Regions from separate parts of the Homo sapiens genome. Here region 2 is linked to region 1. Evidence: fine-mapped expression QTL. Tissue or cell type: cerebral cortex. Region 1 holds a variant in brackets; the other region holds the start of a gene. All regions are shown on one strand. Distances are from middle to middle.

Region 1 (2,763 bases):
CCTAGAAGTTGTCTAGCTTCAAAATTCTCTATGGCACGTGGTGTCTTTGTGACCTGGTTGATGTTCAATTACTATTTATTTAAAGGATGAATGAGTTACAGGAAGATAAGTACTATGCTGCCGCTGTAGTGGATCCGGGTTGCGCTGGTTTGGTCTAGCATACAACTTTGCATACAGGTCTCTTGGAATGGACTTGACGTGACTCTCACCCACTGGGTTCTACCTTGATCGAGGCTCTGAGCTGGCCTTCAGCTGGACAAAGCTGAGGGGGTTTAAGAGCCACTGACAGATTGATGGCCTATTAGCTGGAGCGTACCTCTCCTACGAGGGTTCCGCCGGGGCTGTCTGTTCTCATTTAGAGACAGGTGTCTGAATGCCTCGTCTGCCTGGAAACTGGCAGAAATAATGGACTGGTTAGGAGGCTGGATAGAACAGGATTCTAGAGAGCTGTCAAATGTGATTGCTGAAATGATTTCAGTATGAGCTTATCAGACTGTTTAGGAACAGAGAACAAGCACAGTACATGTTATTTATGGCATTCACACTCTTGCAGCTAGAAACAAAATATAGCATGTTCCAGGCTCAGATTTAAATTAGAATATTCTGGCATGCATGCACAGATTAACTGAACAATAGAATTGGGAGAAAAAAAGAGCCTCAAACCTAGATGAGGTGGGGGGAGTGAATATGTCTAATTTTACAGTGCATTTTGAAAATGTTTCAGTCCTCAAATGAACTGATTGTCCTTTACCAAATCTGGGAATGAGAAAAGCATCCTAGTATGTCCAATTGTGAACTATTTTAGCAAAACTCCTGCTGTGAATAATTGCTAAATTACACTGTTTGTGAATTACATTGTCTTCTTGTGCCTTAAAGACCTGGTTGGATGGATCTTTCAGAATCTTCTGCAGTCATTGTAGTGACGCTGAAATGGCTAAGCGTTGTTCAGTTAAATAAATGTGTACTTTTAGCCAGGTTGCTAACATTGCATCCCAGTGGATTGTTAACTACTGTGTGAGTGGAACTGATTACACTGCAGTCGGTCAGGTTGTGTTTGTGTCCAAAGGTTTGGCTCACATTTATTGCTGAGAGAAAGATGGGGCAGGGTTGACATGTAAAGGATCCCCATTGCTCTCTCCCTCTCCTTCTCCCTCTCCCACATGTGGCCTTAAATCATGAGACTCCATGGAATTTAGTGTCA[G/T]ACAGTCTTAGGTTTGACTTCAGCCCCACCTCCTCTCAGGTGTGTAAGTTTTATCTTTGTTTCTCTCTTTTCATCTATAAGAGAGTAACACGACCTTGAAAGGATATTGTGAGGATTAAATGAGATCATATTTACAGTGTTTGGCCAATAGAAGTTAATTTTATCACTTTTACCTCTTTTTCCCCTGATAATTTGAATGGATAAAATGATATTGGTAGAAGTGCTTTAATGCATATCTTAAAAATAGTCCAATAAATATGCTTAAAGAAAAGAGATGTCAAAATATCTACTAGTTAGGTTTAGAAGTATATTATTTATCACAAAATGATCTGTGTTTTATTGAATTACTTTATTTTGAACTGCATTATGTATGCAGATGAATTTTTTTCCTTCTGTCTCATATATGTATACTTAGATAGATAGATAGATAGATTTTTTTCCTCCTTTTTGGGTCATCTCAAATGCTTTTTGGAAAATGGAGAACAATAAAGTTTAAAGTACATAGATTTTTATGCTTTTGTTGAGCTTTCATACTTCAGTGCATGTTAATGAAACTCATTGTAGGCATTGTTGCTTCATGATAACAGAAAAGCATTATTATTCAGATAGTACAATGATAAAAATAATTTGTGTTTGCTAGGAAAAAATTAATGGACCTATGTTTATATGACTTGATGATTGAGACTGGTCTGTAGTCTGTCTAATGACACTGTTTCTCAGTAAATACTACGTGGGTAAATCCACTCTCTTCAACTAAAACTGAGATAGCCACTGGAGTGTTGAGGGCCTCTTTGATTGAATACCTGTGCATTTATAATCTTGATGTTGGAAGAAAGCCTTTGTAGACTAATCATATAGTCTCAGGTTTTTTACTATTTATAATTAATAATGTTAATGTTGTAGGGATTATGATTAGACTCAAAGCATAGATTATGTTAGCAAATTTGTTCTTCCCTATCATGACTTCTACTTTTAAACATTACCTGTAGCATTTTGTCCTAATTATAATACAGAATAACCCAGGTCTCTTTCTCTATTATTTCTCAATAATCTATTGATTATTCCAGAAAAGAGAGCTATTTCATTTATAAAACTCCCCATGGGCAAAAACCATGATTTAAATACTGTTAGTATATTTCTTACCCCTGAATTCTTATGAATATTTTCTTTTGAGTTGATAATAAGACCTCTGTGGCCTATCCTCTGTCCTTAAAATTTTTAATAATTATGTGAGACTCATGATTAATTCTATCATGTGATCTAAAACATGGGCCAGGCCAGGCACAGTGGCTCACACCTGTAATCCCAGCATTTTGGGAGGCTGAGACGGGCGGATCACAAGGTCAGGAGACGCAGACCCTCCTGGCAAACATGGTGAAACCCCGTCTCTACTAAAAATACAAAAATTAGCCAGGCATGGTGGTGGGTGCCTGTAATCCCAGCTACTCGGGAGGCTGAGGCAGGAGAATCGCTTGCACCAGGGAGTCGGAGGTTGCGGTGAGCCAAGATCACGCCACCCCACTCCAGCCTGGCCACAGAGGGAGACTCAGTCTCAAAAAACA
Region 2 (2,620 bases), 640 kb before region 1:
CTTTTAACAGCAACAGTATAACCACCTCAGCTTGTTTTCTTTGCAGTTGTCCTGGAAACATAAACAGTTGTTGAATAAATATACAATAGAGGATTTTTTGGGTTTTTTTGCTTTCCCTAATATGGCTGTGTTCAGTAATGGCCAGTGTGTGCTCCAGCCTAGCAGCACATCAAGATCATGGGACACCTGAAATCCCAAAGGAAGCCTGAAATGCCTAAGAGGGACAAGCGGGATGGCTGCTGGTTTAGGTTGACATCATCGAATGTGGAAACCTTCAGACTTCCTGGTGCCATAATCAATGAGATGGTGTCATCGTTGACTCCACAGTAAAAAGAGGACCGGAGCATTATGGGGTGAGAGCCAGCAATAGTCCACGATGCTGTACTGCATGTAGCCCAGAAAAAAGCCAAAAGCTACGTCGGTGACATTGTGCCGCCCCAGCATGACCCTGGATAGGCCCAAGACGAAGGCCCACAGAACCACCAGCACCCTCAGTGGAATGGCCAGCACCAGGTGGTTCAGGATGAACCTCGACATCAGGGCGGCCCTTGTGGCATGGCCCGAGGGGAAGGAGTACTTGTCCACCGAGAGAGTGACAAACATGTCCATCTGGTTGTGGGCCGGGCGGCGCCTGCGGACCAGCCCTTTGATCAAGGCCACCAGCAGCAGGTCCAACAGCAGGGCGAAGAGCAGGTTCATCAGCACCTCGCGCCCGGCCCAGCTGTCGCTCCTGCACAGGCAGTAGAGGGTGCCCAGCAGCCAGGGGATGCCGTGTCCCGAGATCTCCAGCAGCTTCATAAGGGGTCGCACGCTGCCCCACGACGAGCTCTCTCCCGCGCACACCCCCAGCTTCTTGGACAGCCACAGGTCGATGGCCAGCAGGGAGCGCAGGGCGATGCCCAGGAAGGACGGGTTCAAGTCCATGCGGTCCTCCTCGGGCAGCGGAGGCGCGGGCGACTGCGAGGGGCCCGCCGCGGCCAGGGGGAAGGAGCCGCGGCGGTGAACTGGGCTCTCCGATGCACGGAGCCGGGCGCAGGTGGGGTCCACGGCCGTGGCGCGGCTGCTGAGCAGGGACTGGAACTCAAACCTGCTGCCGCCGCCACCGCCGCCATGGGCTGGGCTGCCGGGGCTGCTGCTGCTGCTCGAAGCGGAGACGCCCAGCGGCCGTCCCTCCATGCTCCTCCGGGGACTTGGCATCGCAGCTGGCGGCCCGGATCCCGGGACCTGGCCGGACCAAACAGAGGCTTCCCGGCCCTGCAGCCTCTTCCGCTTCCGCACTACCATCCCGGAGGGGCGGGGAGAGGAGCCGGCGAGAGCGCGATTGTGACACCTGGTGGAGACGTGGGAGGGAGTTGGAATTTCCAATGTGAGGAGAGCAGAGGGGAGGATGTTGGCGTTGGGAGGTACAGGTGAGGGAGTGAGGTGATGGGGAAAATGTCAGTGTCTGTAGGAGCTTAAGAGAAATAGAGCCCCGTGTAACAAAACAAAGCAAAGTCTGTTTTCTCTCCCTTGTTTGTTGTTTTCTTTCTTTTTAAGATTTCTTGCCCAGGAGTGTTCCTGCCTGGCAAACAAGATGTGTACCTCGGGGTCTACCTCATGAATCAGTACCTGGAGACCAACAGCTTTCCCTCTGCGTTCCCCATTATGATTCAGGAGAGCATGAGATTTGAAAAGGTGATCTTGACTTTCTCATTGGCTTTTGTTGTCTGAAGATAACCTGAGAGTTCTTATAAAGAACAGAGTTCTTACAGCATTATTTGGTAAATTTCATTTTTAAAAAAATTATCCGAAAGCACTTCAGCACAATGCAAAACCGCAGTCGGAACACTTGCTTTTGTAATGCAGGTCTGAGCCAAGTTCTGTCAATCTAGTGCTAAATACCCTGGTTGATGTTTCCTATTCTTGGAACTCCCATGGCATTTTTTTAACTGGAGCAAAGAGAGCATTTCTGAATGTTTTTGGAGGTGTTAGAGGTAATTGCATTACATTTACGAAAGGGATTATTAATAAACTGTGGACCTTAGAAAAAACTGTGTTAGACCAAGAAAAATAGCGAAAAAAAAATAATGAAATTAGTTAAATCCTGTAACTAAAATCCTGTAACAAAAAGGCTGTTCAGATTTACTGTTTCCTCAGATCATACCTAGATTATTTAGCTACAGTGATAAAGGCTAGATTCCATTCTGGTGAATAACATGGTGATATAAATAGTCAAAACATTACCAGCCTTCTTCACACTAAACTATTCATAGAATATTGATGTTATTACTATGTCATCACTGACAATCTCTTAACATTTTTGTTTTGGAATTTGGAGATGGAATCAATTTTAACCTTAATAAGTCTAATGATTTTGCCCCAAACAATGTCATTGAGGGAGATCTGGGGAGAAGGAAGGCTACAGAGTAGAGCATGTCACATTTTTTTAAAAAAATTATACTTTAAGTTCTAGGGTACATATGCACAACGTGCTGGTTTGTTATATATGTATACATGTGCCATGTTGGTGTGCTGCACCCATTAACTCATTCCCCCCACCCCACGACAGGCCCCTGTGTGTGATGTTCCCCACCCTGTGTCCAAGTGTTGTCATTGTTCAATTCCCACCTATCAGTGAGAA

Evidence for each region. PIP is the estimated chance that this variant, and not a neighbour inherited with it, causes the effect.
Region 2: it holds the start of PLPP6, and the variant in region 1 is the best candidate, but not a certain one, in a credible set for the expression of PLPP6 in cerebral cortex (GTEx, PIP 0.84).

Annotation. Positions count from the first base shown.
Region 1 is chr9:4,025,399-4,028,161 of GRCh38, reverse strand. All of the region lies in intron 4 of GLIS3 (GLIS family zinc finger 3), which reads left to right. Among named protein-coding and RNA genes, the nearest start is that of GLIS3-AS1, 130 kb to the right of the region's middle. The variant G/T (reference allele first, on the strand shown) is at 1,202.
Region 2 is chr9:4,660,953-4,663,572 of GRCh38, reverse strand. It overlaps PLPP6 (phospholipid phosphatase 6), which reads right to left and starts at 1,279. Exons shown (of 1, transcript NM_203453.5): 1 at 1-1,279. The coding sequence starts at 1,197. The coding sequence ends at 310. SPATA6L (spermatogenesis associated 6 like) reads left to right here. Exons shown (of 12, transcript NM_001353486.2): 2 at 1,537-1,674. RefSeq lists a silencer at 885-1,144.